Linked DNA regions of Homo sapiens: region 1 is reported to be linked to region 2. The links are microRNA targets in miRTarBase. Many come from high-throughput screens and were not tested one by one. Region 2 holds a microRNA gene; the other region holds the end of a gene's coding sequence.
Evidence for each region. The annotated mature microRNA hsa-miR-502-3p reads AAUGCACCUGGGCAAGGAUUCA and lies in region 2 at 3,482-3,503, opposite strand. An mRNA with a match to its seed (bases 2 to 7 or 8) in the 3' UTR can be bound and repressed. Matches are read on the target gene's strand: a 7mer-m8 pairs with bases 2 to 8, a 7mer-A1 pairs with bases 2 to 7 and ends in A, and an 8mer does both.

Region 1: miRTarBase lists COMMD4 as a target of hsa-miR-502-3p. The part of its 3' UTR that is shown has no 7-base or 8-base seed match.

Annotation. Positions count from the first base shown.
Region 1 is chr15:75,339,482-75,346,804 of GRCh38, reverse strand. COMMD4 (COMM domain containing 4) reads right to left here. Exons shown (of 8, transcript NM_017828.5): 7 at 6,927-7,103; 8 at 6,532-6,840. The coding sequence ends at 6,800. Among named protein-coding and RNA genes, the nearest start is that of NEIL1, 3.9 kb to the left of the region's middle. RefSeq lists an enhancer at 1-14.
Region 2 is chrX:50,010,799-50,018,151 of GRCh38, reverse strand. It overlaps MIR502 (microRNA 502), which reads right to left and starts at 3,554; the gene lies at 3,469-3,554. The region is part of intron 3 of CLCN5 (chloride voltage-gated channel 5); the gene reads right to left. MIR660 (microRNA 660) reads right to left here and starts at 4,911; the gene lies at 4,815-4,911.

The DNA of each region.
Region 1 (7,323 bases), not on the chromosome of region 2:
TCACACTACCCTGCTACGTCTCCTTATTAGGCGTAATAAAATTATGTGGCTTTGTAAGAAATTGGTTTTTAGAGATGCATGTTAAAGTATTGGGTATGAAATGTCATGATTTGTCTAATTTACTTTAAAATACTTCTGCCATAATAAATGAATAGAATTAACAACTTGATATTAGTTGACAATATCTAATAATATCTAAGTTATTAGAAATTAGTTAACAGTAACTTCTTTTTTTGAGACAGGGTCTCACTGTGTCACCCAGGCTGGAGTGCGGTGGTGAAATCTCGGCTCACTGCAGCCTCCACTTCCCGGGTTCAAGTGATTCTCCTGCCTCAGCCTCCCGAGTAACTGGGATTACAGGCGTGTGCCACATGCCTGGCTAATTTTCATATTTTTAGTAGAGATGAGGTTTCGCCTTGTTGGCCAGGCTGGTCTTGAACTCCTGACCTCAAGTAATCTGCCCGCCTCGGCCTCCCAAAGTGCTGGGATTACAGAAGTGAGCCACCATGCCCAGCCAACAGTAACTTCTTAATATCATCTAATAGCTAGTCCACATCCAGATTTCCCCAATTGTCCCAAATATATATATATATACACATATAGACAGGGTCTCACTCTGTCCCCCAGGCTACAATCATGGGTCATTGCAGCCTCCGACCTCCCGGGCTCAAGTGATCCTCAGCCTCAGCCTCCCAAGTAGCTGGGACTACAGGCACACACCACCACGCCTGGCTAATTCATGTTTTGTAAGGATGTGGTCTCACTATGTTGCCTGGGCCAGCCTCAAACTCCTGGGCTCAAGCCATCCCCCGACCTCGGGGTCCCAAAGTGTTGGGATTACAGGCGTGAGCCACCGCGCCTGGCTGGATTATATCTTTTTAATAATTTTAAATCTAGATGAAACCACCTTCCCTCTCCCACCCACTTCATCCCCTTCTTTTATCTTCATGATACCTTTCTGAAGAGTCTCAGCCAGTTGTTGTTTGAGATAGATGCTGCATCACATTCTCAATTTGTCTGAATGTATCCTCAGGGTGTCACTGATATTGTCACAGAGATTGGTCCTCTATCTGTGGTTCATCCTGCATGCTGGGAATTAGATCTAAAGGCTTGATTATATAAATATTCAGGGATACTTCCTAGGTGCTGCTCTGTACTTCGTTGTTTTTTGTTTTGTTTTGTTTTATTTGAGATGGAGTCTTGCTCTGTCACCCAGACTGGAGTGCAGTGGCACGATCTTGGCTCACTGCAACCTCTGCCTCCCAGGTTCAAGTGATTCTCTTGCCTCAGCCTCCTGAGTAGCTGAGACTACAGGCATATGCCACCACTCCCAGCTGATTTTTGTATTTTTAGTAGAGACGGGGTTTCACCATGTTGGCCAGGCTGGTCTCAAACTCCTGACCTCAGGTGATCTGCCTGCCTCGGCCTCCCAAAGTGCTGGGATTACAGGGATAAGCCACTACGCCTGGCCACTGCTCTGTACTTTGAATTGCATCATATCAGGAGGCACCCAATATCTCATTGTCCCACTTTATTGGGAGCTGAAACTGATCAAGACAGGGGCTGTGGCAGCCAGACCTCTGCATTAGAAAACATATGGTTCATACCTTGTGAACACCAAATAATCTATGGAGTAATTTCTTTGTTGTTCTCTTGTTTAAATAAAGGTATAATTTACATATAGTAAAATTTACCCCTTTCAGACTGCAATATTTGACAAACACATAGTCATGTAACTGCCACCCCAATGAAGAGATAACACACATTGAAGCATTATTCCCAAGATGTGGAAACAACCAACCGATACATGGATTTTTTAAAATGTGATATATAATAGGCTGGGCATGGTGGCTCATGCATGTAATCTCAGCCCTTTGGGAGGCCAAGACAGGAGGACTGCTTGAGCCCACGAGTTCAAGACCAGCCTGGTCAACATAGGGAGATTCCATCTCTATATAAGAAAAGAATTAGCATAGTGGTATGCATCTGTAGTCCCAGCTACTCCAGAGGCTGTGGTTGGAGGACTGCTTGAGCCTGGGAGTCAGAGGCTACAGTGAACTGTGATCATGCTGCTGCACTCTAGCCTGGATGACAGAGTGAAACCTTATCCCCATCCCTGCCCCCCTAAAAAAAATGTGGTATATGATGGAATATTATTCAGCCTTTAAAAAAAGGAAATACTGCCACATGCAACAACATGGGTAACCTCGAAGACATTGCACTAAATAAGTTGGTCACAGAAGGACAAATACTTAGGCTGGACACAGTGGCTCACGCTTATAATCCCGACACTTTGGGAGGCCAAGGCGGGTGGATCACGAGGTCAGGAGATCGAGATCATCCTGGCCAACATGGTGAAACCCCGTCTCTAATAAAAATACAAAAATTATCCAGGTGTGGTGGCGGGCACCTGTAGTCCCAGCTACTTGGGAGGCTGAGGCAGGAGAATTGCTTGCACCCAGGAGGCAGAGGTTGCAGTGAGCTGAGATCGTGCCACTGCACTCCAGCCTGGCAACAGAGCGAGACTCTGTCTCATAAAACAAACAAGCAAAAAAACCCCAGAAAGACAAATACTTCATGGTTCCACTTATATCAGGTACCTAAACAGTTAAACACACAGAAGCAGCAAGTAGAATGGTGGTTGCCAGGAGCTGCCGGGAAGGAGGAAATGGGTAGTTGCTATTCAATGAATATAAAGTTTTGGGTTTTTGGCCAGGCGCAGTGGCTGATGCCTGAAATCCCAACACTATGGGAGGCCGAGGGGGGAGTGAATCACTTGAGGCCAGGAGTTCAAGACCAGCCTGGCCAACATGGTGAAACCCCGTCTTTACTAAAAATACGAAAGTTCGCTTTGAGATCCTGTCTCAAAAGAAAATAAAGTTTTAGGTTTTTATTGTTGTTTTTGAGACAGGTCTCACTCTGTTGCCCAGGCTAGAGAACGATGGTGCAATCTCGGCTCACTGCAGCCTCGACCTCCCAGTAGCTGGGATTACAGGTGGGGGCCACCATGCCTAATTTTTTGTATTTTTAGTAGAGACAGGGTTTTACCACGTTGCCAAGACTAGTCTCAAACTCCTGACCTCAAGCGATCCACCTGCCTTGGCCTCCCAGAGTATTGGGATTACAGGCGTGAGCCACCGTGTCCAGCCTCAAAGTGATTTTCTAATTGTCATTCTTAATATATTTGATAGAATCCATCTGTCAAGTATAGCTTTACCTCATTGACCAGGGCTATTTGGTTATCCTGACTAAAAAGACAGGATAACCTCTTTTTTATTTTTTTTGAGACAGGATCTCACTCTGTCACTCAAGGCTGGAGTGCAGTGGTATGATCATGGTTCACTGCAACCTCGAACTCCTGAGCTCAGGTGATCCTCCAACGTCAGCCTCCTGAGTAGCTGGGACAATGGTGCATACCACCACACCTAATTTTTGTATTTTTTTGTAGAGATGGGGTTTTGCCATGTTGCCAAGGATAGTCTCCTTGTGATTTTTTTATCACTTTGTTTATTCCCAGTTTTCATTTTTGCTTCTTCTTGCCCAACTGTGGCTGGTGGAGCATTTTTTAGAATACCAGTTTGACTTATCTATAGTTTTATTTTTAATTGACAAATAATAATTGTATAAATTTATGGAGTACAGTGTGATGTTTTGTTACATGCATATATTGTGGAATGATCAAATCGGCTGGGCACGGTGGCTCATGCCTGTAATCCCAGCACTGTGGGAGGCCGAGGCAGACGGATCACCTGAGGTCAGAAGTTTAAAACCAGCCTGGCCAACATAGTGAAACCCAGTCTCTACAAAAAATACAAAAAATTAGCCAGGGGTGGTGGTGCATGCCTGTAGTCCCAGCTACTACAGAGGCTGAGGCAGGAGAATCACTTGAACTCGGGAGGCGGAGGTTGCAGTGAGCCAAGATCACGCCACTGCACTCCAGCCTAGGCAACAGAGTGAGACTCTGTCTCAAGAAAACAAAAAACACAAAAAAAGATCAAATCAGGCTAATTAGGATATCCATTACCTCAAATATTTATTTCTTTGTGATGAGAACATTTAAAACCCTCTTTTAGCTATTTTGAAGTATACATCATTATTAACTGGTCACCACGCTGGGCAATAAATCACCAGAATGTACTCCTCCTAACTGGAACTTTGTACCTTTTGACCGGTGTCTCCCCTTTTCCCCACAACCCACCCTCTCTCTCCTCCAGCCTCTGCTAACCACCATTCTACTGTCGACTTCTATGAATTTAACTTTTTTTTTTTGAGACAGGGTCTCACTGTCACCCAGGCTGGAGTGCAGGGGCACTATCATGGTTCACTGCAGCCTTGACCGCCCTGGCTCAAGCAATCCTCCCACCTCAACCTCCCAAGTGCTGGAACCACAGGCATGTGCCACTGCACCCGGCTAATTTTTTTACTTTTTGTAGAGACAGGTTTGCCATGTTGCCCAGCCTGGTCTCGAACTCCTGGGCTTAAGTGATCCTCCCACCTTGGCTTCCCAAAGTGCTGGGATTACAGGCGTGAGCCACTGCCCCAGGCCCTTTTTTCAACTCCAGGCATAAGTGAGGTGACGAGGTATTTGTCTCTCTGTGCCTGGCTTATTTCACTTAGCATCATGTCGTCTAGGTTCATCCAAGTCACAAATGACAGAACCTTCTGCTTTTTAAGGGCTGAAAAATATTCCAATGTGTGTATATATACATTTTTTTTTTTTTTTTTTTTTTTTTTTTGAGACAGGGTCTCAGCTCTGTTATCCAGGCTGGAGTGCAGAGGTATGATCACAGCTCACTGCAGCCTCAAACCCCTGGGCTCAAGCGATTGATCCTCCTGCCTCAGCCTTCTGAGTAGCTGAGACTATAAGCACGCACCACCATGATCGGCTAATTTTTTATTTTTTTGGAGAAACTGAGTCTCCCTGTGTTGCTCAGGCCAGTTGCAAGGTCTAAAGCAATTGTCCCACCTCCCAAAGTGCTGGGATTACAGGCATGGGCCACTGCACCTGGCCTTTAGTGATTATTTTTTTGAATACTTTTTCCATTCCACTCTCTTCCTCCTTACCTTCTGAGACCCTAATCATGAATGTTAGCACTTTTGTATAGTTCTACAGATCTGTGATGATCAGTTTTGTGTAACCTGACTGGGCCATGGGGTCCAGATTCCAGGAATTTCTCTCTGTGGAGCCTCAGGTCCTGAGGATCCCAGCCAGGCTAGGGTGCCTTCTCTCCATCGCTCGGAGTCTTTTTGTTTGTTTTATATGTAACATCCAGGGTTGTTAACTGTACTTAGTGGGAGGAATAGGGAAAACACCTACTTCATTTTTTCAGAAGCAGAAGTCAGGAGTGGAGTCAGTAAGTATCTCTTTTGATGTTCAAATTGTCCCATCTTTGGCCAGTGGAACAAGCCATTATTCTTCGATAGGTTCCTTAAGATACTCCAGGCGAGTCCTCCTTGTACCCTCCATGTGCCAACCCTGGCATCAGCCTTTTCTACAAGGAGCCCTGGCTGGTCTGGGCCAGTCCTGGAAGCCCATCTGCCTTAGTCTTCTCGAGCTGCTATAACAATGCCACAGACTAGTGGCTTACACCATAGAGATTTCTTTCTCACAGTTCTGGAGGCTGGGAAGTTCAAGATCAAGGTGCCAGCAGACGCAGTTCCTGTTGACAGCCCTCTTTCTGGCCTTGTAGACAGCCACCTCGTGTGCGCACATGGCCCTCATCTGGTGTGCATGTGTGGACAGAGGCTTCAGCATATGAATTCTGGAGGAACATGAACATTCAGTCCATAACACCGTTCCTCTTGCCAATGACTGGTTCAGGCATGGTCACTTCTCTCTTCCTAAAGATGATGGCAGTGGCTGGGCGCAGTGGCTTACGCCTGTAATCCCAGCACTTTGGGAGGGCAAGGTGGGTGGATCACCTGAGGTCAGGAGTTCGAGACCAGCCTGACCAACATGGAGAAACCTCATCTCTACTGAAAAAAAAAAAAAAAAACAAAATTAGCCGGGAGTAGTGGGGCATGCCTGTAATCCCACCTACTCGGGCAGCTGAGGCAGAAGAATTGCTTGAACCCAGGAGGCAGAGGTTGTGGTGAGCCAAGATCACGCCACTGTACCATCTCAAAATAAATAAATAACAAGATGGCAGTGAAACCTGGGCAAGAGGAGCGAAACTCCGTCTCTAAATAAATAAATAAATAAATAGAAGATGGCAGTGAAACAAGGGCAATCTCCTTTCTGTACAAGGGGCATTTGGCTTTGGGGCCACCAACGTGCTGCTAGCCTGAGGACATGGCCAGGGGGCAAAGACAGCAGAGCCAAGAGCATCCCAGATCTGGGAGCTAGAACCCTGATTTTCTTCTCACCAGACAAGCAGATGCATTTTGGTCCTCAGTTGGCCTTACCTATGACCTCCCTCAATCAGCAATTGAGAAAAGAAAATGAGTGATGGACCAAGAAGGCCTGTATGTCACTTGTGTTTCTCTCACAAAAACCCTTGATCTGAACCCAAACAGAACCCCCTGCACACATTCCTTTATACTTCTGTTTATTTTTCCTGCTTATGAAAACAGCCAACAATTGCCTTTCAAGGGAAGGGAAGGTAATGCTGGGAAAGGTCCTCAGGAGCCCTGAGCCAAGTTCTCAAGAGAGAAGTGAGGCAGCTGGGGATCTGGGAGGCCAGAGTCCGGGCCAGGGCCTCAGCATCCTAGAACCAGGGCTGCCTCCCGAAGAGCAGTTCAGAGGGCGTGACTCCATACGGGCAGGGCGGCTCCACACAGGCCTGGAACACCCTTCTCCTCAGCCCAGGGAGCTCATCAGGGTCTGGGCCTGCTTCAGTTCTGCAGAGGGAAGAGGTGGGCAGGTGGGAGGCAGTCAGGCGGATCTGGGAGAGCCTCTCACCCGTCGAGGAATAGCTGAGCCTCACCTGCCAGGAGGACCTGGAACTTGTCTGCTGAGAGGGACATGGCAACAGGCTGGGCTGGGGTCCCTGGGGCAGCTGCCACCTCCAGCCGCAGGTGCACCATGGGCTCTTCCACGGATTGCAGCAGGCTGGAGCTCAGGGTGTAGTCCACCCGCCAGCCCACACCTGCCAACCTATTCACTGTGAGATGGGGTGGGTGGCTCTCAGGATCAAAGCAGGCAAGCCAAGTAGACCTCAGCCGACACCCTGGCTCAGCTCTCAACCATTCAAGGCTATGTGGCCTCTAAGAAGCTCCCATCCTGCTGACCCAGGCTCAGAACAGGGCAGGTGCCCGATAATCAGTTCTGATCACCCACAGCAGACCTCAGTGACAAGAAACCTTGTGGGGAGTCAGGAGACC
Region 2 (7,353 bases):
CTCAGATGAAACAAATCAAAGATCTAAATAAATAGATATTCCATGAACTTGGATAGGAAGACTCAATATTGTCAAGAAGTAAGTTTTTCCCAACTTGATCTACAGGTTCAGTGCAGTTCCAATCAAAATTCCAGCAAGTTATTTTGTGGGTATCAACAAACTGATTCTAAAGTTTAGCCAGAGAGACAAATGACCCAGAATAGCCAACACAATTTTGAAAGAGAAGAACAAACCTGGAAGACTGACACTATCCAACTTCAAGGCTTACTATAAAGCTACAATAATCAAGACAGTGTAATAATGGCATAAGAATATAGATCAATAGAACAGAACAAATCCAGAAATATACCCACAAAAATATAGTCAATGGATCTTTGACAAATGAGCAAAGGCAATACAATGACACAAATATATTCTTTTCAATAAATGGTACTGAAACAACTGGACATGAACATGCAAAAAAAAAAATGAATCTAGAGGTAGGTCTTCAACTTTCACAAAAATTAACTCAAAATAGATGACTGACCTAAATGTAAAACACAGAACTATAAAACTCCTAGAAAATAATGTAGGCTAAAATCTAAGTGATCTTAGGTTTGGTGGTGACCTTTTAGATACAACACCAAAAGCATGATCCATGAAAGAAAAAATTGATAGACTGGACTTCATTATAATTAAAAACTTCTGCTCTGCAAAAGCCACTGTTAATTGAATGTAAAAGCAAATCACACATGGGAAAAATATTTGCAAAAGACATATCTTAGAAAGGGATTGTATCTAAAATAAGTAAGAAACTCTTTAAGCTCAAGGATAAGAAAACATTCCTATTAGAATGCCTAAAATCCAAAACACTAACAAAACCAAATGTTGATGAGGATATGGAGTAACAGGAACTCTCGTTCACTGCTGATGGAAATGTAAAATGGTACAGCCACTTTGGAGGACAGTTTGGTGGTTTCTTACAAAATTAAACATAGTCTTACCATATGATCCAGCAACACTTCCTGGTATTTTACTTAAGTGAGTTGAGAACTTATGTCCATACAAGATCCTGCACACAAACGTTTATAGCAGCTTTATTCATAATTGCCAAAATGTAGAAGGAACCAAGCTGCCCTTCAGTGGGTGAGGATAAATAAACTTTGTGCCTCCAGACAATGGAATACTATGCAGTGATAAAAAGAAATAAGCTGGTTACTATATGGGATAAATGGGGAAAAAAATGAAAGAAAAGAAATGAGCTATCAAGTCATGAAAAGATATGAGGAGCCTTAAATGCATAGTGCTAAGTAAAATAAGCCATTCTGAAAAGGCTGCATAATGTATGATTCTAACTATATGACATTCTGGAAAAGGCTAAACTATGGAGACAGAAAAATGATCAGCGGTTGCCAGGGGTTTAGGGTGGGGGAGGGGGGATAAATAGGCAGAACTCAGAGGAATTTTAGGGCAGTGAAACTATTCTGTATGATACTATAATGGTCATGCATGTCATTATACACTTGTCAAAACCCATAGAGTATATAACACAAAGAGGGAACTCTAATGTAAACTATGGTTTACATTAATAATTATATTTAAACTATTATTTAATAATAGTTATAATACATTATAATTATACTATTATTTAATAATAATGTCTCAACATTAGCCCATCAATTTTAACAAGTGTACAACACTCATGCAAGATGTTAATAGCGGAAACTGGGGTGTCTCGAGAATATATAACAACTCTATACTTTCCATTCAATCTTTTTGTAAACCTAAAACTGCTCAAAAAAGTCTATGAATTTTTAAAATATGAAAAGAAACTAAAAGAGCCATTTACACATAAGGAAATTTTGATGCTAAAAATCATCCTGTGTAACACAGAAATCCCCCTAGTAATGACAGAATAGAAATTTTAAGTCATTTAAACCAATGGTTCTCAAACTTCAGTGTGCATCAGAATCACCTGGAGGGCTGTTAAAACACAGATTGCTGGGCCCCACCCCTGACTTTCTGATTACCTAGGTCTGAGGTGAGGCCTGAGAGTTTATTTCTAACAAGTTCCTGGAGGATGCTGATGCTGCTAGTCTTGGGCATCAAGAGAGGTATAAAGTCTGATAAAATAAGACTAAGGCTGAGCAGTAACCAAAATGAGATTTTAGAGTATACAAAAGATAAGGAGCACATATTAAATAACCTGAATCTTTACTGCAGGTTAGATTGGGAGAATCTGGGAGAGAAGAAGGACCAAGGATCAGAATCTATAAGTCCCAAATGTTTAAGAACTTGAGGACTGAAATGGAGTGTGTGTCTCTTTCTGTCTCTGTCACCACTATTTATAATACTGTATTGCTACGCTGACCTGAACACTATAAATTTGCAATGGGCAATGAGCAAAAATGATAAGATGGGGAGGAATGAATAGATCAGCTTAGCTAAGAAGAGAGTAACAACTGAAGAATACTGCTGAGGTCACAGTAGAAAGCACTCAGGCTCAGGCGCTAAGGATGGGAGGAGGGGAGTGAATCAGATCATGGGCACCTGTACTCCCTAGGTGAGAGAGAGAGAGAGATGGAGAGACGGACAGAGAGAGCGATAGACTGAAACAGAGACATGTATAGTCCATCTCTATTTGACTAAAGTAAGGTAATATAAAGATATAGGCTGTTCTCATTTCCATATTGTGTGGGGTGCATACAAGATCAGCAATAAGAAGGGTCCCTTGCTCTTCACCCCCTCTAATTCAAGAAGAGTCTGTAATAGACATCTAAAGGCAGCTCACAGTTCTACTCAGGATGTCCTGGAAGATAAAGGGCAGCTTATAAGCTCAAACTCCTATACATTCTGTAAGTGTAAATCTTCATGAATGTGTGCATCTCCCTGTCCTCAGAGGGGACAGAGTGGGGGGAATAGGAAGACTCTCTCTTTGGCCCCCATCATTTGTGCCCGTCTGAATTTTTCTTCTAAAGCTGCCCATCAGAGAGCACATCCAGTGATTTTGACTCTCGTTTGTCACTGCATCCTTAACACTAAAAAGAGTATCTGTCACACTCTAGAAACTCAAGATATAGGAAGGCAAGAAAAGAGACATATATGCACTCAGTCCATATATATACATATAGGTAGGCAAGGCTCCATCTCATTGAATCCTTGGCTTAATACTTGAGACAGCACTCACATCTAGGTTGGAAGGAAGTGAGGGAGCAAATCAGAAGGCTCTGGTTCCCGCCCACCACCCTGTGTGTGGACAGCAGGTGGGGAACACAGAGAAAGCTCACTGTCTCACTCTGGATACCTGCATACATGGACATTATTTAATAAGGACATTTATTCTAATACACAGACAAGCCCACCAGAGCACCTGAAGTCCCTAACTATTCTGTTCTGTGCTTCCCCAACACACACCCATCACTCAAAAACTATGACAGGGGAGGGTGGGAGGGGTGATGTCTAGGCTCTCTGTCCTTCTTGGTACAGTTGAGCTCCCCCTCTCTGAATCCTTGCCCAGGTGCATTGCATTGAGCCAGCACTAGCACCCAGATAGCAAGGATTAGAGAGGGGGAGCAGGGCAGAAGGCTTGGGCACCTGCCGTGCTCGAAGCAGAGAAGGTTCTCTGTTACACAGCTCTGTGTGAGAACAGGAATGAGAGTCTTGCATTGTGTATATGTTGGGAGAGGGTGTCAATAAGAAGTCCCATGTTGTGGCCCACACTAACTCAGCACGTGCAGGAATATTAGGTGACAAAAAGTCAAGTCTCCTACACATATTCTTTGAGGCAAGAACCAAGTCCATCTTGTGTGATACCATATGCCCACTGCCCTGGCAGCACAGCGTTAGCATGTACTAAGTGCTCAATACTTGTGAAAGGGAGGTAGAGGGGAAGGAGAGGGAGGAGGAAGTGTGACTCACAGGCACTTTGTCTGTCTATGGGCAGAAAAAGGCCCCTCTGAGAGTCCTGGAATAGGTGCTGCACTGAGACAGCATGCACATTTAGGTGGCAAGGATACAAGGGGAAGCAGAGCAGCAGGCTCAGGATGTGCACACCACATATATTTGCACAGGTACCCATGTCTGTGGGAGGGAATAAAGAAAAGCCTGATTTCTGGCACCCTGAGCCCATGTATTCACAGGAAGTTGGATGACATGAGGATGCTTATTCTCCATGAGCCTGCTAGACAGTAAGGTCGGCATCTCTGACAGGTTAGTTTACTGTGGCATTCCCAAACAGCAGGAATTCAGTAAATTTGTTAAAGGGATGAATAAATGAATGGACCAAAAACATGCACACACAAATGACTGACTGAAAGAATGAACAAAGGAAAGAGAAGGGATGGACAGGCTCTGTCCTACACATAGGCAAGGCTCACAAGCTGGTATCCTTGCACAAGCCCATTGCACTGCTAAGACAGCACTTGTGCCTAGGCTGCAAGGCTAGGAGAGGGCAAGCAAAAATCAAAGTCCAGGCACCTGCACACCAGGCATGCATCTGAGTGTGTGTGGCAAGGAAACTTGCAGGCAAGTTTAGATAATAAGGCTCCTTCCTTTCAGCTTTGTACAGAAATGTTTCTACACTTACACATGTGTGTGTGCACATGCATGCACAATGTGAGCATGTGTATTCATAAGAGAATGAGAAGGCTCAATTCCTGACACACCTGTGTCTGTTGCCTAGGCCTGGGGAAGTCTAGGCACCTAATACCTCCACTAGATAGGAAGTCCCGGAGAGAGACACTGTCCATTATTTAGCAGGGTACTCCCAGCACAGCTCATGGCACATCAAAAGTGCGCAATAAACACGGGCTACTTGGATTGTTCAGCAGAAGATTCACGATGACAAGGCTCACCCTCCTGTAATCCATGCACACAGGAGGTGTTTTGAGAATTCACAACTCCGATATGCAATGGGTATGGGAGAAGGAGCAGTTCATTCTTCTGCACATGGGAGGGGGGTGGGGGAGGAGAGAGAAAGAAAGACAGAAAGAGAGAAAGAGAGAGAGAGGAGAGAGATTGATTGATTGATTGAGAGAGAGACAGATTGAGATTAAAGTGTCAGGTGCACGCCTGGAGAAGCAGTGCCAAGTCTATTCCCTAATAAAGTACTTGTTGTGTGTTCACTTAGCCTCATGTGCTCACTGAATGTGTGGTTATGGAGGAGGTGGAGACAGTAATGAAATGATGGCTTCCCTGCCACAGTCTGCATGGACTCGGCATTGGGAACGTACATGAGCAATGCAGGAGCTCATTCTCTTCCACCCTTCACCTGACTAGCTTATCACTGCCCCTAGCTAGCACTTATACTAAATCAGTGATTCTCAAACTTAAGTGAGCATCAGAATCAGTTGAGAGCCTTGGTAAAGTACAGATTTCCATGGTTTATGGTGTAGTAGGTCAGGGATGAGCCCAAGAATTGGCATTTTGAACAAGCTCCTAGGTGATACAGATGCTGCTGGCCCAGGGACCACACTGAGAACCACTGCTCTATACATAACTTAAAGAAATGAAATAATGGGACATAGAGGGGTGATGCAAAGACTCTACACTTTTAAACATGGATGAGATTCCCTCTCTGAATTTTTGTACAAGGCAATGGACTGGAATAGCATTTGTACCCAACTACGAAGAATGAAAGAGAGGGACAACCTGAATAGAAGGCTCGAGCATCTTCAAATCCATTGTGTTTGTGTGTATGTACAAAAGAAACAGCACTCTCTGGCTCACAGGTGATTTTCCTATGACCATACAAAGGTGAAGTGTCTTTTCTTCATATGCATGTGTGAGATGACTGACAAGTAGGGCCACTTTCCTTCAAGCTCTGGTGGCATAAGCAGCAAGTAGAAAGCCTATTGCCTTGCACACCAGACATGAGTGAGAAGATGCTGCTAATGACACTCATTATCCTATGCACACTGTGGCTGCAGCTCTGTGTAAGGGGAGACACACCTTTTGTAGTTCTCTAGCTGAGCACTGTTGGGGGGTTGGAGAGGGGATGATGGGAAGACTCACTCTCTGCTACATACGTATGCATGAACAATGTGGGCAACGGAAGTTCCTTCTCTTAAACATGCTCACTAGGCATGTGAGTATGAGTTCTGTGTCTTTCTTGACCACCCTGTCTCTCCATGTCTGGTGCATGACAGGAGCGCCACCCCTGCTTGTTAAAGGTGGGAATGAATGAAGGATGGGGATTATAAACAGGTGTTCTTCGCTCTATGCAGAAAAGGCTCAGCCGTGGAATGCTTGCCTGGGTGCACCGCATTGACACAGCACTTGCATCCAGGTACCAGGATTCAAGAGGGGGAACAGGACTGAAGGCCCAAGCAGCCATACAGAGTATGTGTGTGTGCACGTGTGCGTGTGTGCACATGTGCTCACATGGGTTTACAGGGAAGGCTCACCGCATATAGTGTGTTCATCTGTGACTGTACAGAAAAGTAATGAAAGGATCTCTCCTATACAGAGCAGCAAGAAGGAAAGTAGCAGTAAGAAGACTTCCCTCATTTAATCCCCATCTATAAGGGAGTTAAGGAAGCTCACTGGCTTGCACGCTGAGAATGGGAGAGAGGAGAGCACAACAGGCTCCATCTCCTACCCTTTCAGTAGGTGGGGTTCTCTGCATGCAGGGCCATGTCTCTGAGTGTGTCTGGTGTACAAGGATTGGGGACATTTGAGAATTTCACTTGAGCAGAACCTGCACATGCTTGTGCATGCAGACTGGGTAACAAGGAACATATAGATCTACTTCATTCTTTTGAACAGTGGCCTATTCATCCACAACATTTATGTATAGTGTGTTTATGAGTCCCTACCAGAATGTAGGGTAGCAACCTGTCCATTTTGATCCCTGCTATATCCTTGGTGATGAACATAATACCTGCTGTCTAATAGACACTTGAGTATCTGTGGAAGGAAGAGGAGGGAGAGTTGATGTGCAAAAGCTCTGTCCTTTTAAGTGTAGACAAGGCTTCTTCCCTTGGAATTCTTGAAAAGGGACAGTGAGTCAAGGCAGTACTGGCACACAGGCTGAAAGAATGTGAGTGATGCACCAGGTCAGAGGGACCACTCTGTGAGGACATGTCTCTGTGGATGTAACCAAGTCAGGCCCTTTCTCTTGCACACAGCGTATTTATGTGTGATTGTACTGAGGTTTAGTAGATTCTCCAACATGTATCTGTACCCCACCCACCCTGTACCCCACCCACCCTCAGGACATGCAGATATAATGAATGAGAAGGAGTCCATTCTCCTCCCTGAACTGTACACTCCATGAAGGTAGGGAACCAGATATGGCTCATTCTCTTGTGGGCCAACTGCCCAGGACAGCACCTGCAATAGAGTAGGTAGGTACTCAACAAATAGTCATAGAAA